Linked DNA regions of Homo sapiens: all the other regions are linked to region 2. The links come from fine-mapping of genetic effects on gene expression. A gene starts in region 2. Each other region holds a variant in brackets. All regions are shown on one strand. Distances are between the middles of the regions.

Region 1 (8,173 bases), 57 kb before region 2:
AGGCGGGACCCTGGCAGCAGCCGATAAGAAACAAGGGGGCTTGGACTGAGTTCCAAGAGGAGAACAGAGGAAGGGGAGAAACGGTGTTTGAAGAGGCTCTGGTGGCTGAGGAATTTCTAAAGCCAGCAAGACCCCAAAGCCCAAGAAGTGCCAGGCAGGTAAACACTCACCCGGCCAACAGGCAGGTAAACAAACACTCATCTGGCCGACTCCCGGCCAAACCAGAGTGAAACCGCAGAACCCCAAAGACAATGGAAGGAGCTGAAAGCAGCAAAAAGGAAAAAGCAGGCTGGGCGCGGTGGCTCACACCTGCAATCTCAGCACTTTGGGAGACTGAGGCGGGTGGATCACGAGGTCAGGAGTTCGAGACCAGCCTGGCCAATATGGTGAAACCCCATCTCTACTAAAAATGCAAAAATTAGCCGGGTGTGGTGGCACACGCCTGTAATCCCAGCTGCTCGGGAGGCTGAGGCAGGAGAATCGCCTGAACCCGGGAGGCGGACGTTGCAGTGAGCCAAGATCGCACCACTGCACTCCAGCCTGGGTGACAGAGCGGGACTCCATCTCAAAAAAAAAAAAAAAAAAAAGGAAAAGAAAAAGAAAGAAATTATTTATTTCCCTCTGTTCCCTCCATTCCCCCGAAGGGAACTGCCCTGAACTGAGGCTGTCTCCGCACCAGCAGACATCAGAAGAGAGAACAGAGACTCCCTCCTGCTGCTGGGAAGCAACTGTCAACCCAGAACCACGGAAATCCACTGAGGAAAAGACATTTTTATCAACTAAATCAGTACATTTCCAGACAAAGAAAATCTGAGCTGTTCCGTCACCTATTTTTCCATGCCAGGGAAAATTCTGGAGGCTGAGATTCAAGCAGAAGCTGTGTGCAAACTGGCTACGCAGAATCAGGATGGTGACATGGTGACAGGGTTATGTGTGACTGAACAAGGCAGAACCAGAATACACCACCGAACAGCATGCAGGTGCCCCTCAGTGTCCCTGGGGGACTGGATACAGGACCCCTCGGATATCAAAATCCTGAGATGCTCGAGTCTCTGACAGGAAATGGCATAGGATTTGCATATAAACTACACACATCCTCCTGTATACTTTTCTTTCTTGAGACGGAGTTTCGCTCTTTTGCCCAGGCTGGAGTGAAGTGGCACAACCTCGCCTCACTGCAACCTCCGCCTCCCAGATTCAAGCAATTCTCCTGCCTCAGCCTCCCAAGCAGCTGGGATTACAGGCACACGCCACCATGCCTGGCTAATTTTTGTATTTTTAGTAGAGATGGGGTGTCACCATGTTGGCCAGGCTGGTATTGAACTCCTGACCTCCGGTGATCCACCCGCTTTGGCCTCCCGTATTGCTGGGATTACAGACGTGAGCCACTGTGCCCGGCCCCTCCTGTATACTTTAAATCACCTCTAGATTACTTACGATTCCTGGTACGACGGAAATGCTGTGTCTGTCACTGTTATACTACATCGTCTTTTGTTTATTTTTTATTGTTGTATTGTTATTTTTATGGTTGAATCTGCAGATGTGGAGCCCGCAAATACAGGGGCCACCATAAACTGGGGGGTAAACGACAGCCAAAGTGACGGGGCCCTGAAGTCCTCGCACTGTGCAGCCATCAGGGCTCCCAGAGAGGCAGAACCAGCAGGATGTGTGTGTACAGACAGTGCGAGCAAGAGTGAGATTATACATATTTAGAGAAACAAACAGAGAGAGAAAGATGGAGAGACACACTGAGACACAGGGAGATGACAGACACTGATTTTAATGAACTGACTCATGTGACTGAGGGAGCTAAGTCTAAAATCTGAAGTCCAGGTCAGCAGGCTGGAGATCCCAGCAGGAGCTGGTGCTGCAGCTTGAGTCTCCATCTGGGTCAGAATCCTCTCTTCCTTAAGAGATCTTAGATTTCTGCTCTTGTGGCCTTCGACTGATTGGGTAAGGCCCACCCACGCTGTGTCGAAGTCCTTCGACTGATTGGGTAAGGCCCACCCACACTGTGGCAAAGGACTTCGACTGATTGGGTAAGGCCCACCCACACTGTGGCGAAGGACTTCGACTGATTGGGCAAGGCCCACCCACGCTGTGTCAAAGGCCTTTGACTGATTGGGTAAGGCCCACCCACGCTGTGGCAAAGGCCTTTGACTGGGTAAGGCCCACCCACGCTGTGGCAAAAAGCCTTCAACTGATTGCGTAAGGCCCACCCACGCTGTGGCAAAAAGCCTTCGACTGATTGGGTAAGGCCCACCCACGCTGTGGCAAAGGCCTTCGACTGATTGGGTAAGGCCCACCCACACTGTAGCAAAGGCCTTCGACTGATTGGGTAAGGCCCACCCACGCTGTGGCGAAGTCCTTCGACTGATTGGGTAAGGCCCACCCACACTGTAGCAAAGGCCTTCGACTGATTGGGTAAGGCCCACCCACGCTGTGGCGAAGTCCTTCGACTGATTGGGTAAGGCCCACCCACACTGTAGCAAAGGCCTTCGACTGATTGGGTAAGGCCCACCCACGCTGTGGCGAAGTCCTTCGACTGATTGGGTAAGGCCCACCCATGCTGTGGCGAAGGCCTTCGACTGGGTAAGGCCCACCCACGCTGTGGCGAAGTCCTTCGACTGATTGGGTAAGGCCCACCCACACTGTGGTGGGAGATCTCCTGTACTCAACGTCTACTGATTTAAATGTTAATCACACATAAAAAATATCTTCACAGAAACATCCAAACTGGAGTTTGACCAAACGAGGGTACCAGGGCCCAGACAAGTGGACGCAGAGAATTCACCATCACACATTATTTGGGAGGAAGATAGTGACTCTGATTAACCTCAAACCCAGAGGGCTAGAAATGTCCACTGTGGTGCCAGGGCGACCACCAACAGTTAGTAAACGGCAAAAAGCTAAATGACAAAGAACATAAACCAGAAGAGCAAAAAACAGAGGAAAAAATAGACAAGAAGTGAGAGACAAAGAGCAGGGTGAAGTAGACAAATCCAAACAGTGGGCCACAGCACGTGCTCAGCAGCCAAACGCTCTCATTCAAGACGGCAAACAAGTACGCAAGAAACCTGTCCGGGGGCGTCCACAAGAAACACATCTAAATCACTAAGGATGGAAAAGCTGAAGCTAACCGGAGGAAAAACAACACATCAGGCAAACACTAAATAAAAGAAAGTTAGCATCACTGTGTAATAAACAAAGCAGACACCAAGGCAGCGGGCAATGCTGGAGATAAAGAGCGAGTCCATCGCGTTAGGAGATTCAGTTTCCCAAAACAAAGAGACGAACCTCATGTCCTATGCCCCTAAGAACACGTCTCCAGAACTGGCAAAGCTACAGGAGGAACAGATTAGTCTGTTGTCAGCAGATTTCTAACACCTCCCTCAGGGAGTGGCAGGTCAGCAGGATGTAGAATGAACACG[C/T]GACGTATACTTCTATCTGATGGATCTGTACAAACACTGATTCCAGCAACTGCAGAGAGCACATTCTTTTCAAGCACTCCACAGTTACGAAGGCTGATCATAAGCTGCCACTGATCAAGTTTCAAAAATCTGATCTGATAAGGACGAAGTTTCCTGGGTATAATGCAATAAAAAAGAAATCAATAATTTTTAAAATAACTAGAAAACCACCACGTTTGGAAATTAAGAAACACACTTCTGCATAACTCATCGGTCAAAGAAGGAATGATAATGCAAGCAGCAAATAATGCCAGGCACAGTACCTCACGCCTGTAATCTCTGGCTTTGAGAGGCCAAGGAGGGAGCATTTGCTTGAGGCCCCGGAGTTCAAGACCGGTCCGGCCACACAACTGGCTCTACATGAGTCTGGCTCTACACACACACACACACACACACACACACACACACACACACACATATATTGTGGGGCGGGGGGCGGTATAGATCAGATGTCACTGTGTTGCCCAGGCTGGTCTAGAACTACTGGACTCCAGTGATCCTTCCAGCCTTGGCTTCCTGAAGTACTGAGATTATAGGCGTGAACCACTGCACCGGGCCTACAAAAAAATTTTTTTTTAGTTAGCCAGGCCTGCTGGTGTGTGTGAGGTGGCGGGCCTGCTTGATCCCAGAAGGTCGAGGCTGTGGTGAGCCACTGCACTCCAGCCTGGGTGACAGCGAGACCCTGTCCCCACCAAAAAAAAGGGTGTGGGGGCATCCCACAAATGCTACATAAAAAGACAACAAAAGAATATTCGAACAACTTTATGCCAATATGGGAAAAAATTAGCAATACCAATCTAGAAGAAAGGAAAGCTTGAAAGTCCTAAAGCTATTGAAGAAGCTGAGCTATAATTTTAAAATACTCCCTCAAAAAAACCTCCAGGCCCAAACAGCTCCACTGGCAAGTTCTGCATAATATTCATGTTATGATTTTGATACCAAAATCCAGCATGGACAGAAGAAAGGAACAGCGTGGAACAGAATCATCCACCAAGACCCCTGTCAAAATCCCACACCAAACATAAACAAACTCATCCAGCAAGATACAGAAAGGATCATGGCCACCTTGGGCCTACCCCAGAAACACAGACTCATCTGACTCCAGAGGGATCAATCAGTGTAACTTACCACACTGATTACAGGCAGACAAGCACCCGGTCACCATGACAGATGCAGGAAACACATTTTAAAAATTCAACATTCATTCTTGCTTTTTTTTTTTTTTTTGAGATGGAGTTTCACTCTTGTCACCCAGGCTGGAGTGCAATGGTGCAACCTCTGCTCACTGCAACCTCCGCCTCCTGGGTTCAAGTGATTCTCCTGCTTCAGCCTCCCGAGTAGCTGGGATTACAGGTGCCTGCCACCATGCCCAGTTAATTTTTTGTATTTTTAGTAGAGGCGAGGTTTCATCATGTTGGCCGGGCTGGTGTCGAACTCCTGACCTCAGGTGATCCACCCGCCTCAGCCTCCCAAAGTGCTGGGATTACAGGCATGAACCACTGCGCCTGGCCCATTCTTGCTTTTACAAAGTAACAGAGGGCTCATTCCATTTCTCACCAAGATGGTCTGCTTTATCTGTGGCCAAGAGAGACTGAAGTTACCTGGAGAGGAGGAAGCCTCCTCCTGGCTTGAGGTCATATTCTGAAATATTGGGGATCCCGTACCCCTCTTCTCTGGATGATGACACACTCATCATGCCCTTAACCCCTTCCCATATTCTGAAATATTGGGGCTCCCGTACCCCTCTTCTCTGGATGATGACACACTCATCATGCCCTTACCCCCTTCCCATATTCTGAAATACTGGGGCTCCCGTACCCCTCTTCTCTGGATGATGACACACTCATCATGCCCTTACCCCCTTCCCATTCAGGAGTCCTGCCTTCCTATCACAGAAGATTACCATCCATCCTATGTCAAATCCTCCAGATGTACCCCTCCACAGGCTGGGCAACTTTGGGCAAGTTACTTAAATTCTCTGAACCTGTTTACATGTGTGTAAAAGGGAAGCAACACCACCAGTCCTAAAAGCTGTTGTGCAGAGAAGTTTCTCCACATCAAGTGCTTAGAATAATGCCTGGGACAGCACGGGACCTTCGTAAGTAATACGTGTTATTGTCGTCACGTACACAACCCTAGACCCTCCTGTAACCACAGAGGTGGCACCTGAATCCCATTTACTGGCAGATGGATGGAGGCTTCAGGTCAGTGACTCCAGTGCCACCAGGCCAGGGAAGAAGCCAGAGTGAATATCTGTCAGGCCCCAAAGCCATGCTCCACACCCCCAGCACTGCCCCCACCCCTGCCCTATAAGCTGGCCTTTTAGACACCTCGCTCCAAGGCTCCAAAGAACTGACAGGAAAACAGCTGGGCACGGTGGCTCACTCCTGTAATCCCAGCACTTTGAGAGGCCGAAGTGGGCAGATCACCAGAGGTCAGGAGTTCAAGACCAGCCTGGCCAACATGGCAAAACCCTGTCTCTACTAAAAATACAAAAATTAGCCAGGCCTGGTGGTGGACGCCTGTAATCCCAGAGACTCGGGAGGCTGGGGCAGGAGAATTGCTTGAACCCAGAAGATGGAGGTTGCAGTGAGCCGAGATTGCGCCACTGCACTCCAGCCTGGGTGACAAGAGTGAAACTGCGTCTCAAAAAAAAGAACTGATAGGATTGAAACATTTTCTTCCTATGAATTAATAGCTTACACGTTAAAGCATGATTTTTCTGCAGAAAAAAGATGATCTGAACGTGGTTTTGAAATCCTCCCATCTGAAGGGGTAGAGCAGCTGGGGGCTAAGCACTGCAAAGGCCTCGGGGCCGGGCCCTGTGAGAGGAGCCCCTGAGACCCGCATCCCGGACTCCGGGGTTAAGGCTGATGCCCTCCAACCCTGCATGCCACTGAAGATCCCAGAACGTTCTGACAAGCTGAGCCATGCGCTCTGCCATTACAAGTGCACGATGGCAGTCTTTTCCAAAATACTCAAAACGAGTCATGACAACGATTAGGATTTTCCCTTCCCTGTCAGACACCGTGGTCCTGCCAGTGTCTACGGGAGATATGCTAAGCCAGAGACCATGGTCAAACTGCCCTGCCTCGAAGCCTGGCAGGGTGACGGTGACCGTGGGGCCCACCACCCAGCACACACAGGGCCGCGGCCCCGGGGCGCCGCTCACCAAGGTGGCCATAGCCCACCACGTGCTTGGCGTGCGGGCCGAGGCGGGCGCGCAGGTCAGTCACGATGTCGTAGAGCCGCTCCACAGGGAGGGAGAGGTCGTACTTGTACACGTAGCCATCCCGGCTCAGCGCCTCTGTGATCCTTTCCCTCAGGGCCCACAGCATCTAGAGGATGAGACGAGATGAGACAAGGGCTGGCTATGGGAACGACACCCGGGGACAGGGGGCACACCACACGGGGTTAGGGCAGCAGCATGTTCTGTATCTTCACCAGGTGAGGCTCCGACCCCGGACAGCAAATGCCCCAGACCAGGTGTGGCTCCAACCCCAGACAGCGAATGTCCCAGACCAGGAGGGGCTCTGACCCAGGACAGCGAATGCCCCAGACCAGGTGTGGCTCCAACCCTGGAATCAATCCCAGACAGTGAATGTCCCAGGCTCCACGACAGCACCGAGCACCCTGGGACTCCGGCAATCAGGCGGCTGGGACACCTCACAGAAGGGGGACAGCCATGACGGAAGGGGGAGGCGCCCACCTGCAGCTTCAGGTCATGACACGGCACAGAGTGGCAAGGGCCAGGGAAGGCCCTGAGGATGAGAATGGGCCTGGACGCTCCCTGAACCAGGGTGGGGCAGGGTAGGGAAGGGGGCGCAGAGTCACACAGGCAGTGGGGACAACAGCAGGGCCCAGGCAGCTCAAGGGGCATGTCGGGTGGGAGGCAGGGACATGGCGGGTGGGCCACAGGGGAGGGAAGGACATGGTGGGTGGGCCACGGGGGAGGGAAGGACACGGTGGGCGGGCCGTGGAGGAGGAGGGACACGGCGGGCGGGCCACGGGGGAGGAAGGATTCTGAGGAGGAGCAGACGGTGCTGGTGGCTGAAGCAGAACCGGGCCAAATCCTAGGGCTCAGACAGATCGGCCTGTGGTTTGCGTGGCTTTTGCTTGCTTCGAACTTCCATTGTGGAGATCTGCACCATGAGGAACAGGACAGAGCCATCCTCTGTGGGCTGCAGGACCACCTCTCCCCTGCAGGGTCCTACCCAGGGCTCAAGCCCAGCACCTGCCCCTCCAGAGACCCTATCATTTCAGGAAATTCTAAGAGAAACACTTGGCCGGGCGCAGTGGCTCACGCCTGTATTCCCAGAGCTTTGGGAGGCTGAGGCAGGAGGATCACTTGAGCCCAGGAGTTTCAGACCAGCCTGAGCCACACAGGGAGACCCCGTCTCTTAAAAACAATAAAAATCAGCTGGGTTTGGTGGTGGGCACCTGTAGACTCAGCTACTCGGGAGGCTGAGGCGGGAGGATTGCTTGAGCCCAGGAGGTCGAGGCTGCAGTGAGCTGCAACTGTGTCACTGCACTCCAGCCTGGGTGAGAGCGAGACCCTGTCTCAAAAAAAAAAGACAAAAAAAGACTCTGTTTTATTGAGGCAACCACAATGCCACACTGACACTTAAAAAAATACCACCTCCTCGCCACCACTGGGAATCCGGCCGGCGCCCAAAATTCCCGCATTTCCCCACCATCAATTT
Region 2 (8,149 bases):
CAGCCAGGAGATGGGGGAGCCAGGTGAGGGCATGTGAGGGTGTGGGGGCCACTGGAGAAGTACAGCTGCCTGTGCCATATACGTCTGAACAACGTCTAAAACTGACGAGAGATAAAATAAGAAACAGCAACAAAAACATGTTGTTTAGAAACAGGGAGTTTAAGGGCCGGGCGCGGTGGCTCATGCCTGTAATCCCAGCACTTTGGGAGGCCTAGGCAGGCGGATCATGAGGTCAGTAGATCAAGACCATCCTGGCTAACATGGTGAACATGGTGAAACCCTGTCTCTACTAAAAATACAAAAAATTAGCTGGGTGTGGTGGCATGTGACTGTAGTCCCAGCTACTCGGGAGGCTGAGGCAGGAGAATCACTTGAACCCGGGAGGTGGAGGTTGCAGTGAGCCAAGATCGTGCCACTGCACTCTAGCCTGGGCAACAGAGTGAGACTCTGTCTCAAAAAAAAAAAAAAAAAAAAAGAAAAAAACAGAGTTAGGGCCAGGCGAGGTGGCTCACGCTTGTAATCCCAGCACTTTGGGAGGCTGAGGCGGGCAGATCATGAGGTGAGGAGATCAAGACCATCCTGGCTAACACGGTGAAACCCCGTCTCTACTAAAAATACAAAAAAAAAATTAGCCAGGCGTGGTGGCGGGCACCTGTAGTCCCAGCTACTCAGGAGGCTGAGGCAAGAGAATGGTGTGAACCCAGGAGGCAGAGCTTGCAGTGAGCTGAGATCACGTCACTGCACTCCGGACTGGGCGACAAAGCAAGACTCCGTCTCAAAAAAAAAGAAACGGAGTTAAATATCAAACGGCCAAAAAGTACTACCAAACTTTTAAAACAATGCACGCACTACACACTTTGAAAATTGAAAATATTTAAAAGAAAAAATTGGCAATAAATATTTTGATTGGAAAGGGTGATGGTTATAAAAACATGATATAAAGATGTGTAAGAACCCAAGAAACAATGTGGCTTCAAAAGTATCAACACCTACTGCAAGACACTGAGTGATACCCACGGCCCAGGGCTAGGCCAATGCCCCACTAACCTGGGTCCCCTCAAAACCCTCTGCCCCCAGCCTTCAGGAGCTGCTGGCTCCCACCTGTCAGAACTCAGTTCTGGTTGTATGGAGAGGTCTGAACCCACCTTCCGTCCTCTGGTCCAGCTCTCGCATCAGCTGGAAGTTCCTCTGAAGTTCGCAGGGAAGGTTCTCGATACCTGAAACGCAAAAACACAGAAGCCATGTACCTCTCAGCAGCAAGACAAAAATTCACCTCCAAAGGTTTTCTGTCTTTTTTTTTTGAGATGGAGTTTCACTCTTGTTGCCCAGGCTGGAGTGCAGTGGTGCGATCTTGGCTCACTGCAACCTACACCTCCCAGGTTCAAGTGATTCTCACGCCTCCGCCTCCTGAGTAGCTGGGATTACAGGCACATGCCACCATGCCCGGCTAGTTTTTGTATTTTTAGTTGAGACGGGGTTTCACAAGGTTGGCCAGGCTTGTCTCGAACTCCTGACCTCAGGTGATCCGCCCACCTCGGCCTCTCAAAGTGCTGGGATTACAGGTGTGAGCCACCAGGACTGGCCAAAAGTTTTATACTTCAAGTCTACAAGCCCACTCTGTATTCTGTCTCTGTCAGGGTTTGCGGAGCGGAAGGACTGTGATCTCATTTTTAGATGCAGGTACCAAACAGTGCTGACAAGAGGCTGTGTGCACACTTCGGAAGCTGTCAGAAGTCAAAGAAGGGAGAGGGAAACTTGGAAACCAACAGCACAGGCAGGGGAGGCCAACTGACCCCACCCTCTAGGCTGCCCCCCCTCAGTGAGCAGCATCTTCCAAGGCTCAAGCCAAAATCCCCTGGGTCCTCCTTGATCTTCCCCTACTTTACCCAGAAATCCAGTGCATTGAGCAGTGTAGCCACGCTGCCCACGCGACTTTATGCAAGGATAGAAATGTTTCCTCTCTCGGATGGGCGTGGTGGCTCATACCTGTAATCCCAGCACTTTGGGAGATCAAGACAGGCAAATCAGTTGAGGTCAGGAGTTCAAGACCAGCCTGGCCAACATGGTGAAACCCTGTCTCTACTAAAAATACAAAAATTATCCAGGCGTGGTGGTGCACAGCTACAGTCCCAGCTACTCGAGAGGCTAGGGCATGAGAATTGCTTGAACCTGGGAGGTGGAGGTTGCAGTGTGCTGAGATCATACCCTCCAACCTGGGCAACAGGGTGAGACTCCATTTCAAAAAAAATCAAAAAAAGAAAAAGAAAAGAAATGTTCTCTCTGAGCTGCCCAAGACAGTGGTGGCCATAGGGAGCTACTGAGCACTGGAAATGGGACTAACGCCATTCAATTTTTAATTTTACTTAAATAGTCCCTGTGGCTAGCGCAACCATTCCCCACAGTCTGCCAGGAGGACCCCCGTGCTGCTTTCGCGTCTGCTTTGTTACCCCCTAGACCAGGCCAACCTCCGCCCCCTGCACAGCTGACACAGGCTCCTAAGGGGGGCTGCCTCCTCCAGTCTTGGCCACCCTCCCATCTGCTGTTCACAGTTACCAGGCAATCATTTTAAACCTAACTCTATCTTATGCATCTGATGCTTCCAGCCCCAGTGTTTTCCCAGCTCCCCTAGAGGACAGAGGCACAGCCTCCCGGCTGGCACAGCCTCCCAGACACACACAAAGTCAACCCTCCTTGGGAGGCCAGCCCACTGGCTGGGCACCAGGATAGAGAAGGCCTCCCCTCCAGCGTGCTCCCCAGCTTGACTCTTCTACCCAGGGAACCCCCCACTACTCAGACCCCCAAGAGACAGCGGAGCACATGGGCAGAATCGGGCGTCCCTCTAGGGCAGCGGTCTCCAGCTCCAGGCCACGGCTCACTCGCCACTGTCTCAGCCCCTGGGCGGGTGCCAGGCCGAAGACCATGAGGATCCCCAGTGCAGCGCCCCCACAAGGGCCCTCCAGAGCCACCCGGCACAACCCCAAACACCGCGACCCCAAAGCTGTGCCCATCCCGGGCCGACGTCAGGGGTCCCGCGTGGGGTCTGCCCCTCTACGAGCGGGAGACCCTGAGCAGGCTGCTCGGCAGCGCTGGACCTTCCCTGGTGTGTAAAGTGAGGGAAAGCACCGTCCGCTCAGCCGCTGGGGGCGCCGACCTGCTGCCACCTGGAAACAGCACAGCCCGCCCACCAGGGCCGACTCGGCACCGCCCTCCCCGCCTCCGCGCCGCAGTCCCCAGTGCCGGGGAGAGACGCCCCGCGGCCCGCACGCCCTCCCCAGCCGCGGTCACACAAGAGGCCGGCGCACACGGGCGCACAGCCAGGCGGAGGCCCAGACCCCGGAGCCCCCAAGGCCCGGAGCCCCGCAGCGGGCGCCAGCTCCTCCTGCAGACGGGACAGGGACGGGCGGGACCTGGCGGGGCCGGGGCCGGAGCTGGGGGCGGAGATGAGGCGGGGCCTGGGTAGGGGCGGGACCTAATATGTGGGCGGGGTCGAGGCCGCAAGCCCCGCCCAGCATCGCCAGGCCCCGCCCCGCCGTGACGCACCTGGAATTGGCGCGACCCAGCCGGCGGGACCCCCCGCGCCCGCCCCCCGCGCCCTCCCCTCCCTTGCGGCCCTGCCCCGCCCCGTCCGCGCGCCCCCCGTCGCGCCCGGCCGCGCCCGCCGCCCTCCCGAGCCCACGGGGTCTGCATGCGGTGCCCGGCGCGCGGGGGGCTGCGGCACGGAGGACTCCGCGTGGGCGGCGGGCGCGGGGCCCGTGGGGCGCGCTTACTGTCCAGATAGTGCTCCAAGTACATGGCGGTCGCCATCTTCGTCCGCGGCCGCGCTCGGGGTCTGCGCGGGCGGGCGGTGCCGCGGGAGGCGGGGGCGGGGCGGTGCCAGCGCGCTCACTATTCATGAGTCGCGCGCGCTGATTGGTCGCGCCCGGGGGCGGGGTCGGACACGCCTTTCAGCTTCCGGCGGGCGGCGGGCTGCGGGGCCCGGGCGGAGGTTGTGGCAGCGGCGTCGGGCAGCGAGCAGGACCCAGGGCCGCAGCGGATCGGAGGCCGAGGAGGAGCAGGGGTTCCCGGCCCCACCGCCCGGCGTGCGGCCCAGGGCACCCAGGTGGGCGTCTCCCCTCCGCACCTGTCAGCGACCCCTGGGCCACCAAACGCAAACACGTGGTCCCGGGGACCTCACGCCCGTCCTGACGGCGCCCACGCGACCCCTGCTCCCGGCCGGGTCCCGGACAGGCCGCCACGAGGCCCTCCCTTCCCGAAGGCTCCTTGGGACCTGTCTGGCTCAGCGCCTTTCCCCCGGACCCCGAGCCCCCGGGGCCTCAGCCCGGCCTGAGCCGAGGGCCGGCACCGCGTGGCCCGGGCGAGCTGCCCCTCCCTCAGGGCCTGGGCCCTGGCGCCCTTCCCCCGCCAACGCCGCCCCTTCCCTCCGAGGAAAGCGGCCGCCCCGCCCAGCACCAGTGAGGGCACTGGCTCCTTTGCTGCCACCTCTCGAGGCAGGCAGGACCCGCACCATCTGGATGCCTTGGCCGAAAAGGCACGTGCGGCAGTATGATATAGTTAATAAGATGGCGTGCAAAGGTGTGCCGTAAGATGCATGCAAAAATACTGGAGAAGGCCGGCGCGCTGGCGCACGCCTGTAATCCCATCACTTTGGGAGGCCGAGGCGGGCGGATCACTTGAGGGCAGGAATTTGAGACCAGCCTGGCCAACGTGTTGAAACCCCGACTCTACTAAAAATACAAAAAAAAAAAAAAATTAGCCAAGCGTGGTGGCGCACGCCTGTAGTCCCAGCTACTCCGGAGGCTGAGCCCGGGAGGCGGAGGTTGTAGTGAGCTGAGATCGCGTCTGCACTCCAGCCTGGGCGACAGAGCAAGACTCTGTCTTCAAAAAAAAAAAAGAAAATTTTAAGAAAAAAAAAATACTGGAGAAACATAATTAAAATATGTTTCAGACTCGGCACGGTGGCTCACGCCTGTAATCCCAACACTTTGGGAGGCCGAGGCGGGCGGATCACTTGAGGGCAGGAATTTGAGACCAGCCTGGCCAACGTGGCGAAATCATGTCTCTACTAAAAATACAAAAATTACCCGGGCGTGGTGGCGGGCGCCTGTACTCCCAGCTACTCGGAGACTGAGGCAGGAAAATTACTTGAACTTGGGAGAGGGAGGTTGCAGTGAGAAGAGATCATGTAACTGCACTGCAGCTTGGGTGACAAGAGCAAGACTCCGTCTCAAAATAATAATAATACAAAAACTAGCCGGGCATGGTGGCAAGTACCTGTAATCCCAGATACTCGGGAGGCTGAAACAGGAGAATCGCTTGAGCTTGGGAGGCGGAGGTTGCAGTGAGCCGAGATTGCACCACTGCACTCCAGCCTGGCCAGCAGAGCAAGATTCCATCTCAAAAATAAAATAAAATAGGGCAGGCGCGGTGGCTCACTCCTGTAATTCCAGCACTTTGGGAGGCCAAGGCGGGAGGATCACGAGGTCAGGAGATTGAGACCATCCTGCCTAACACGGTGAAACCCCATCTCTACTAAAACTACAAAAAAATTAGCTGGGCATGGTGGCGGGCGCCTGTAATCCCAGCTACTCGGGCGGCCGAGGCAGGAGAATGGCGTGAACCCGGGAGGCTGAGCTTGCGGTGAGCCGAGATCGTGCCATTGCACTCCAGCCTGGGCGACAGAGCAACACTCCGTCCCAAAAAAAAAAAAAAAAAAAAAAAACTTAGCCGGGCATAATGGCTGGTGCCTGTAATCCCAGCTACCCAGGAGGCTGAGGAAGGAGAATCACTTGAACCTGGTACGTGGAGGTTGCAGTGAGCCGAGATCGTGCCACTGCACTCCAGCCTGGGTGACAGAGCGAGACTCCATCTTAAAATATAAAATAAAATAATTTAAAGTGTTTAAATATTAGTCTTTGGGGTGATTCTTCTCTGCCTCCAAACTGTGTAGCATCATCATGCAGTGCTCACCAGTACCCATGTCACTCCTCTTCCCACTTCACCACTGGACGCCCCCAAGCTGGGGATCAAACTCATCTCTGGCAGGTCTTTCATGGGTGAGGTGTGTCACTTCCCAGTCCTGTCTCCACTCCCTGTGATCTCAAGAGGACGTCCCAAAGGCTCCCCGAGCCCCAAGAACTGATGACCACTAGATGTAACGTGTAGGCCCCAGAACCCCCCGCCCCACCCCCAGCCACATCCTTGACTTCCGAGATGCAACGTTGCTGGTCACACAAATTAGCATAAGCTGATCAAAGGAGCAGTACTTTCATTATTTAAAATGCATTTTTAAAGATATTAAGCCAGCTGCTGTGACTCAAATCCGTATGATCACCATGAGAGGCTGAGGCGGGAGGATGGCTTGAGCCCAGGAGGTCTAGGCTGCAGTGAGCCATGATCAAACCACTGTACTCTTGCCTGGGTGACGGAGACCCCCACCTAAAAAAACAAGCTATGTCCCCCTTGGTGGACTCTTCCCTAAACCCCAGTCAAATATTGAAAACCAGAAACAATGTTTTTGCCACTATTATGTTCATTATAAAAATTCAGGCCAGGCATGGTGGCTCACGCCTGTAATCCCAGCACTTTGGAAGGATGAGGTGGGTGGATCACCTGAGGTCAGGAGTTTGAGACCAGCCTGACCAACATGGAGAAACCCAGTCTCTACTAAAAATACAAAATTAGCCAGGCGTGGTGGGCATGGGCCTGCAATCTCAGCTGCTCGGGAGCCTGAGGCAGGAGAATCATTTGAACCTAGGAGGCAGAGGATGCAGTCAGCTGAGGTCATGCCATTGCACTCCAGCCTGGGCTACAAGAGCAAACCCCTCCCCCCCCAAAAAAAAATTCAGCTGGGGTGGTGGCTCACGCCTGTAATCCCAGCACTTTGGGAGGCCAAGGTGGGTGGATCACCTGAGGTCGGGAGTTCGAGACCAGCCTGACCAATACAGAGAAACCCCATCTCTATTAAAAATACAAAAGTAGCTGGTTGTGGTGGTAGCTGCCTGTAATCCCAGCTACTTGGGAAGGTGAGGCAGGAGAATCACTTGAACCCAGGAGGCAGAGGCTGCGGTGAGCCAAAATCATGCCATTGCATTCCAGCCTGGGCAACAAGAGCAAGACTCTGTCTCAAAAACAAAAAAATTAAACAATACAGGAACTTTTAGCTTCCCACCTCCCCAGGGGGCAGGACTGTGATTGCCTTGTTCAGCTTTCAGTCCTAATGTTAGCAGTTTGAGTGCATCCTTACTGGCCTCATTTAATTATAGACTATTTTTCCATCAGTTTTAGGTTTATTGAAAAGTTGAAGAGAAAGTAGACTTCTCATATACTCCTCCACACACACACACACACACACACACACACACACACACACACACTCCTCTATTATAAACATTTTGCATTAATGTGATACATTTGTTACAATCGATGAAACAATATTGATACTTTTTTTTTTTTTGAGACCTCAAATTAGCTGGGCTCGGCTCACTGCAAGCTCCACCTCCCGGATCCACGCCATTCTCCCGCCTCAGCCTCCTGAGTAGCTGGAACTACAGGTGCCCGCCACCATGCCCGGCTAATTTTTTGTATTTTCAGTAGAGACGGGGGTTTCACCGTGTTAGCCAGGATGGTCTTGATCACCTGACCTCATGATCCTCCTGCCTTGGCCTCCCAAAGTGCTGGGATTACAGGCGTGAGCCACCACGGCGGGCCCGATACATTATTATTAACCAAAGTCCATCATTATTTCCATAAGGGTTCATTCTGCCTTGTGCTTTTTTTTTTTTTTTTTTGAGATGGAGCCTGGCTTCTTCGCCCAGGATGGAGTGCAATGGTGCAATCTTGGCTTACTACAACCTCCGCCTTCTGGGTTCCAGCCATTCTCCTGCCTCAGCCTCCCAAGTAGCTGGGATTACAGGCAGGCACCACCACGCCTGGCTAAGTTTTGTATTTTAAGCAGAGATGGGGTTTCACCCTGTTGGCCAGGCTGGTTTCAAACTCCTAAACTTAGGTGATCCACTGGCATCAGCCTTCCAAAGTGTTGGGATTACGGGCGTGAGCCACCACGCCCAGTGCCTTGTGCATTCTTATAGGTTTTGACAAATGTATAATGTCAGCTACCCCCCATTACATGTCATACAGCATAGTTTTGTGG
Region 3 (8,173 bases), 26 kb before region 2:
TCCCTACACCAACCTGGCCAACATGGTGAAACCCTGTCTCTACCAACAATACAAAAATTAGCTGGGCATGGTGGTCGGTGCCTATAATCCCAGCTACTTGGGAGACTGAGGCAAGAGAATGGCTTGAACCTGGGAGGCAGAGGTTGCAGTAAGCTGAGATCACGCCACTGCACTCCAGCCTGGCGACAGAGTGAGATTCTGTCTCAAAAAAAAAAAAAAAAAACTGTCTCAGAAAATAATAACAACTGATTTTTCTTTTTCCCAGGGCATAGTCACCCTAGCAAAGCCCACATGTACCCTCAGAGAATGCTTGGAGGAAAATACGGCATGTGCTGGTTTCAGCGTTGTGGGGCCCTCACCCAGCATCTCAGCCTCCTCTTCCAGCGAGATGGCAGGTGCTGGTTTCCGCATTGTGAGGCCTTCCCCCAGCATCTCAGCCTCCTCTTCCAGCGAGATGGCAGGTGCTGGTTTCGGCGTTGTGGGGCCTTCCCCCAGCATCTCAGCCTCCTCTTCCAGCGAGGACTCCAGTCTACGGATTGGTTTTCACCTGGACGGTGGGTGAGAGGCCGACTGTACCTCGTGATGACCAAGCTCTTCCCGGGTTCTGTTAATGCACTCCTCAAGGCAACATCTTGAGACCCATCAGCTCCTGTTATGTTTGTGTCCCCCAGAATTCGTATGCAGAAGCTGTAACCCCCAATATGGCCGTATTTGGAGATGGAACTTCTGAAGAAGTAATTAAGGTTAAAGTCAGTCACAAGGGTGGGGTCCTGATCCGACAGGACAGGCATCCGTAAAATAAGAGACACCAGAGAGCTCCCTCTCCCAGTCAGTTTCGTAGGCACACATGAGAAGGCAGTGTTCACAACCCAAGGGAAGAGCCCTGGACAGGCACCAGACAACCCCAGCGCCTTAATCTTGGACTTCCAATCTCCAGAAATATAAGACATTTTTCTTAAGCCTCCCAGTCTGTGGTATTGTGATAACAGCCTGATATGGTTTGGATTTGTGTCCCCGCCCATAATCCCCAATGTTGGGGGAGGGGCCTGGTAGGAGGTGACTGGCTCATGGGCGCAGATTTCCCCTTGCTGTTCTTGTGGAGGTAAGTGAACTCTCAGGAGACCTGCTTGTTTAAAAGTGTGGCACCTTTCCCCTTTGCTCCCTTTCTCTCCTGGTCTGCCGTGGTAAAACGTGCTTGCTTCCCCTCCGCCTTCTGCCATGATGTAAGTTTCCTGAGGCCTCCGCACCACGCTTCCTGTACAGCCTGCAGAACTGTGAGTCAATTAAACCTCATTTCTTTATAAATTACACAGTCTCAGGTCGTTCTTTATAGCAATACAAGAATGGACTAATACAGAGCCTAAGCTGACTCCAGCAGCTTCCAAAAGGCAAGTGCAACACGGTAAGTCTTGCCCTTCCAGAGCAAGCACAGTACTCCTTTAGAAAGCAACTGCAGCGGCCGGGCGTGGTGGCTCACGCCTGTAATCCCAGCACTTTGGGAGGCCGAGGCAGGCGGATCACGAGGTCAGGAGATCGAGACCATCCTGGCTAACACGGTGAAACCCTGTCACTACTAAAAATACAAACAATTAGCCGGGCATGGTGGTGGGCGCCTGTAGTCCCAGCTACTCGGGACACAGGCAGGAGAATGGCGTGAACCTGGGAGGCGGAGCTTGCAGTGAGCAGAGATTGCACCACTGCACTCCAGCCTGGGCAACAGAGTGAGACTCCGTCTCAAACAAAAAAAAAAGAAAGCAACTGCAGCATTCTCACACGTCTTCCTTGGAAGTCAACTTGAGCCCCAGCACTGGCCACTGAGCTTCCTGAGCAACCACCCAAGGTAAGGCACAGGGTCCTCCCCAGACCCCCAGCCAGCAAGCTCCGCAAACCACTCTCCAATCACTGCATACCCCTTCAGAATTCAATTTCACACACCTGTCTCTGGGCACAACACTGACATTTTACACCTGTTTCCCAAAATGATGCTGAGTCTTGGGGGTGGTTCCCCCATACTTTTCTCGTGGTAGTGAATAAGTCTCACGAGATCTGATGGTTTTTTTAAGGGGAAACCCCTTTCACTTGGCTCTCATTTTCTATTGTCTGCTGCCATGTAAGATAAGCCTTTCGTCTCCCGCCATGATTGTGAGGCCTCCCCAGCCATGTGGAACTGAGGGTCCACCAGACCTCTTTTTCTGTCAGGTGCGGTGGCTCACGCCTGTAATCCCAACACTTTGGGAGGCTGAGGCAGGCAGATCACCTGAGGTCAGGAGTTCAAGACCAGCTTGGCCAACATGGCAAAACCCCATCTCTACTAAAAATACAAAAATTAGCAGGGCGTGGTGGCACGTGCCTGTAGTCCCAGCTACTCAGGAGGCTGAGGCAGGAGAATCACCTGAACCCGGGAGGCAGATGTTACAGTGAGCCGAAATCATGCAGTGCCATTGCACTCCAGCCTGGGTGACAGAGCAAGACTCCGTCTCAAAAAAAGAGAAAAGAAAATTTTTTTTAAAAAAAACCTCTTTTTCTTTACAAATTACCCAATCTCGGGTATGTCTTTATCAGCAGCGTGAAAACGGGCTAATACAGATGCACTTTCAATTGTTTGTTCCAAAAAATACTTTATTTATTAAACAATATATCCATAATCTATAACATGATCCAAAAATACTGATATACATCTTTACATTATCTAATAAAAAGATTTACAACATTATCTTTCCTTTACAAAGGGAACATAGATAATAATTCCTTGAAAATAAAAATGTAACATTCATGTTAAAGCTGCATCATCGTTTTGGATGAAACGTGGTTAAAGGTGGACACCACAAAATACATACAGAGGAAGAAAGAAACTCCAACACAATCTCTCCTGAATGGGAACATTTTCTTACACTTCCCCTGGCTTAAAATTCCTCTCAGCACAAGTATTGAAGGCCAATCACTGCTCACTAAAAATTTAAGAAAACCTTAAGTCTTCAATGCCCATAATTAACATCCCTCACGGTTTTACTCTAAACCATGAAGACCTAACCTAGGACAGGGCAGACCCTCGGCTCTGGGGTCATGTGGGAAGCTGCTCTGGGCCAGCGTCATTGCTCAAAGCAGCCCCAGCCAGGGCTCCCAACGACAGGACAGGAGGCCAAGTCCGGCAGGGCTGCTGGACACCAGACAAGCTGGCCGGTGTCCCCATCAGTCCCAGCAAACCCTCCCACCGCCACCAGTCTGCACAGCTGCTTCTCGCTGCTCCAGGCAGACTGGAAAACACCCACGCCACAAAGCCCTGGCCAACAGTGAGACGGGCGGTCAGCTGCTGCTCAGGCAGCCACGTAGGCCTCCGCACGGCGTCCCTGGCCAACAGTGGTCTCATGTCCACCCGCCCAGGGGTCCCGTCCAGCATGAGACGGGCGGTCAGCTGCTGCTCAGGAGGCCACGCAGGCCTCCGCTTGGCATCCATGTCCCCAGCAGCAGCACCTAGGGCACATTCGCAGATGCAGAGGGCTCGGTTTCACCAGCTCCTGTTTTCACTGCAGCCTGCCTTCCCCTACAGGATTTCCTCAGATCACTGACTGATACCGCAGCACTGAAAACAAGGAAAATGGGT[A/C]GAACGCTCCTTCCCATCGAGGTCAATCGCACAGCCACAGAGGACCCACACCTTCGGCTCAGATGAAGCTGCCACAGTGACCCACTGGTTCCAGCCCACACACCCTCAATCCAAGAGATGGGTCTGGGGCCGGGCAGCTGTGGAGGGGGGTCTGGTCCGAGACCAAATCCTTGAATCACCCCCAGGGAGAAGGCGGCCAGGCCTTCTGGAGCAAGGCGTGGATGGTGCAAATGGTGTGGCTTCTGTGTCCCTGCAGGGCGGGGGCCAGGCCAGGGGCCATGACCTTCTTTTCTGGCCAAACGGCCACTCCTGAGTGTGTCTCTCCCACGGGTAGACAGCGTCAGCCACAGAGCACTCAGGATTCAGTTGGGTCCAAACTACAGCCCAAGGAATTGTCTCATTCTGCTCATGTTTTCTATGTTTCTTCCAAAACTCTATGCATATTATTTTGGTGATATTATTGTAAGTGGCAAAAGTAAACATTAAAAACACTAAGCACAGAAACTTGAAAAGAAAAGGTCAAAATTCAATACCTGGGATGGTGCACAGTGGCAGGCAGGACCACATCATCACGTGTCAGACAAAAGCGTCCCACAGGGAAGCCAGTCATCTTTCCCCAAAAAGCAGCGAGACCTCAGGAAGCCGGGCAGCCAAAAGCATCAACAACCCCAGCGCTTTCCAGGGGTAGCCACAGGTGTGAACAGCTCAAAGGTGGAGCGCAATATCAAATTCATTTCTGAAAAATTGCCAGGCGCTGTTTCAGCACAAACTCCCTGCACTTACCTATCCCTCTTCCCAAAAATGGTAAAAGAGAGAAAAACATTTTCCACAATGTATCCTCCACGATCAATAAACATCTGTGTTGGCCGGGTGCGGTGGCTCATGCCTGTCATCCCAGCACTTTGGGAGGTCGAGGCGGGTGGATCACTTCAGGTCAGGAGTTCGAGACCAGCCTGGCCACACATGGTGAAACCCCATTTCTACTAAAAATACAAAAATTAGCTGGGCGTGGTGGTGGACGCCTATAATCCCAGCTGCTCGGGAGGCTAAGGCAAGAGAATCACTTGAACCCAGGAAGCAGAGGTTGCAGTGAGCCAAGATGGTGCCATTGCATTCCAGCCTGGGTGACAGAGCAAAACTCCGTTTCAAAAACACAAAACAAAAAACAAAACACACACACACACACACACACAAAACCTGTGCTAACAAAAAGTTAAGTCATTAAATGAAAATTCATCTCCCAGCTGAGCGCAGTGGCTGACACCTGTAATCCCAGCACTCTGGGAAGCCGACGCAGGCGGATCATTTGACCCCAGGAGTTTGAGACCAGTCTGGCCAATATGGTGAAACCCCGTCTCCAACAAAAATACAAACTTAGCTGGGTGGCCAGGCGCGGTGGCTCACGCCTGTAATCCCAGCACTCTGGGAAGCCGAGGCGGGCAAATCGTGAGGTCAGGAGATCGAGACCATCCTGGTTAACATGGTGAAACCCTGTCTCTACTAAAAATATAAAAAATTAGCCAGGCGTGGTGGCGGGCGCCTGTAGTCCCAGCTACTCGGGGGGGCTGAGGCAGGAGAATGGCGTGAACCCGGGAGGCGGAGCTTGCAGTGAGCCGAGATCACGCCACTGCTCTCCAGCCTGGGTGACAGAGCAAGACTCCGTCTCAAAAAAAAAAATTAACATACAAAACCCACCCATCTCCAGTTTCACAGCCGTGGCGAAGGGTGTGAAGCACTGTAGCCTGCCCTCTCTGGCGCTTTCCCTTCTAAGCCGCAGGAAGGCACCGCTTGGAGGGAGCCCCTTCAGGCCCAGACACTGGCAGGGACGAGCAGCAGCAGTGGCCGACCGCCCGCCTGCACCTGCCTGGCACCTGCGCCCGGAGGATCCACTCCCACCCACACCCTCGGAAAAGGACAGGTGGCCCAGAGGCATCCGTGTGTTCAAGAACCGCAGAACATGAATGTGGACACCATCCCAACCAGGACTGTTCAGGGTGTTCTTGTTCTCTTGTTCTCACTCACTGACTACCAGCTTCTCGACGGGAGGGCCCCGTCTGAGACACAGAGCTTCACACGTTCCTTCTGCTTTATTTCCTCTCCCTAGTGAAACATTAAACACAGGAGGAAAAGATACAGATGTAGCCATCAGAAGGAAGTGAGGCTGTCATTCCAAATGGCCCCCCACCATGAAGAAACCCAGGCTTCTTAAATCAGGAACCTCACGTCTCAGTTTTCCCTCAGGTTTCTTTCTGTGGTGTGAGGACAGAAACAGGCGTCCCTGCATTCCTCAGCAATCCTCTCCTTCCTCTAAAGGCACGGGAGAGGATTTCCGAGCGCCTGCGATGCTGTGGGGAACCGCAGGCTGGGCACCGTCACCAACGCGTCACAACAGAGCAAATCTGCATAGCCTTCCCCAACTACCACCGAAAGGATGGCTCCGGCTCAGCTTGGTGAACGCTCATTAAACAAAAAGCACACTCGAGTTTCCTAGCTTCATTCCAGAACTGCTATTGTGGCACAACAAATTCACAACAAATTCACATCGGAGTCCCCTCGACCGGGAGCTGCGGGCCTGGGAATGCACAGCACAGGCAGAAGCATTCGTGGTTCGTCAGCTCCTGGCAGACGGGACTCACTTCACGGACACACAGACCCACGATCTTCATGCTATTAGGGTAATTTCATCTTCACAGTAAAAAATCACCAATTCCCAGAGAAACGGAGCATCAGCCCAGCTGTCGCACAGGGTCTCGCGGGTGCTGGTCACGGGACCTGCGGCCACTCCAAGCTAATGAAGAGCCGTTTACTCCGGAGGTGAGTCCCCGAGGGAGGACTGAAGTCCAAGCTAAAAAGGCGGCGCCAGCGAAGCGGAGGCCGCTTCCTCCAGGGAAGAGCCCCCAGCCCTCCCGGGCCCATCCGAGGCGCCCCACGCGGGAGCGCACGGTGGCCGGAGGCGGCGCGGAGCCGAGTGTGAGGAGGGCAGCCGCCGCCACGGCAGTGGCCCCACGCGCGCCTCGGTGGCAGGTGCTCCAGCGGGCGGGGCACGCGGAGCCCGGGCTGTACCGGACAGTCCTGGAAAACCACAGGAAAGCTACGCGAGGGTGGCGGCCGCCCTCCGTGGACCAGGTTACCATGTCCCCGCCCGCACGCCCGGCCGGGCAGCCCGAGCTCACGCGCGCCCGCCCACGTCCGCCGGGGTCCCTGCTGATGCTCGGGGGGAGTCCTGTAAAAGCCACACTGAGGTCGCGGCGGCGAGTCCCTGCAAGGTCGCCCTTCTGTGCGAACAGGCTTTGGTGGTTCTTGTTCTAGGAAACATCCAGCGCTTCAACTGGCCACGGAGTTACTAAGTATCAACCGAACAAGGTAGTTTTAAAAGGAAGGGAAATATTGCGACACGAATGAAGGGACAGATTAACTTGCTCCTCGGATCCGGGCACACAGCTCCTCCTACTTCTTCTTCCTCTTTTCCTGGACACACCGTGGACAGAACCTGTGACAAGAAAGGCGCAGTGAGGCCCTGGGCGCCATTTCCGCCAGCGCGCAGGGTGCCCAGGGCCCGCCTCCCCATGTCTCCCAGGGCTGCTGGACGCCGGCAGGAGGGCACCAGGAGAGGCACACGCAGTGGGGCCGCGGCCCTCCCGCAGGGAAAATGCGCCGATGCACGTGCGGCTCTATGCAGGACGCCGGTTCTGAAGCTGACAGATACACCATCAATGAGCAAAACCGATTTGACACCCAGGCGTTCCTCCTTAACAGGTGGGTCCTTCTTCCCCGGCCGATGGCAGGGTCGCTGGTGCCCTCTGTCTGCAGTCTGTGGGGGCTGCAGGTACCAAGCACGCGTTGAGAGCATGGCAGCCCCTCAGGCCCACGGAAACCCAGCCAGGCACCCTGCACTGGCCCTGGAAGCTGCCGTCTCACAAGTGCTCCCTGGTGACTCTGAGCAAGTTCTGGAGCTGCACGCACAAGGGGCTCCTGAACAGAGGCAGCTGCTGACCACAGAGGACATTCCATAGGTTCCCCACGCAGGAGGCAGCCGACTCGCATGACGGCAACCGTCAACCACCGCCTGGCCCAGGCCCAAGCCTGCCCAGGGCCCTCCGCCCTAACAGCCTCCGTACCCCTTCTCAAAACCCTCGGTGCACCATCCCCCAGCCGCACGGCGTGGGGCACCACAGTGCCATGTGTCCCTGTGACAGGACAGCCTGTGTTGACGCCACATGACACCGTGAGCTCGGCCAGCCTCCGAGACACGGCATCCTTTCCCTGTGTCCTCACACCGAACACCAAGGATAACTGGCTCTTACCAACTCGGGCGAGTCTGCCGGAGTTTCAAACACGCTGCCACGATGACCTCTGAGTGCCACACAGAAGAGCACATTCCGATTTCATTTTCAGAACATAGATATCCATTTTTAGATTTTCAGCACAGGCAAACAAAGCCAGGTTTTTATCTTTTTATTTATTTATTTGAGACAGGGTCTTGCTCTCTCGCCCAGGCTGGAGTGCAGTGGCGCGATCTCAGCTCACTGAAGCCTCGGACTTCCAGGCTCAAGCCATCCTCCCGCCTCCGCC

Which allele goes with the higher level. Positions count from the first base shown, and alleles are read on the strand shown. Sizes are in standard deviations (SD) of each study's normalised expression. Not every link is listed here.
As copies of C replace A in region 3, the expression in thyroid of the gene that starts at base 3,831 in region 2 goes down (moderate effect, 0.49 SD a copy in GTEx).

Evidence for each region.
Region 1: its variant is fine-mapped to the expression of ING5 in whole blood (TOPMed, PIP above 0.99).
Region 3: its variant is fine-mapped to the expression of ING5 in thyroid (GTEx, PIP above 0.99). The same link has a PIP of 0.9 or more in pituitary.

The regions. Positions count from the first base shown.
Region 1 is chr2:241,754,484-241,762,656 of GRCh38, reverse strand. It overlaps D2HGDH (D-2-hydroxyglutarate dehydrogenase), which reads right to left. Exons shown (of 10, transcript NM_152783.5): 9 at 6,643-6,808. Among named protein-coding and RNA genes, the nearest start is that of GAL3ST2, 18 kb to the left of the region's middle. RefSeq lists a silencer at 1,737-1,937. The variant C/T (reference allele first, on the strand shown) is at 3,432.
Region 2 is chr2:241,697,721-241,705,869 of GRCh38, reverse strand. ING5 (inhibitor of growth family member 5) reads right to left here and starts at 3,831. Exons shown (of 8, transcript NM_032329.6): 1 at 3,768-3,831; 2 at 1,146-1,217. The coding sequence starts at 3,804. RefSeq lists enhancers at 2,713-3,342, 3,581-4,413 and silencers at 3,068-3,627, 3,812-3,975, 3,718-4,537.
Region 3 is chr2:241,723,907-241,732,079 of GRCh38, reverse strand. ING5 (inhibitor of growth family member 5) reads right to left here. Exons shown (of 8, transcript NM_032329.6): 8 at 2,602-7,091. The coding sequence ends at 7,049. Among named protein-coding and RNA genes, the nearest start is that of D2HGDH, 6.6 kb to the left of the region's middle. The variant A/C (reference allele first, on the strand shown) is at 3,602.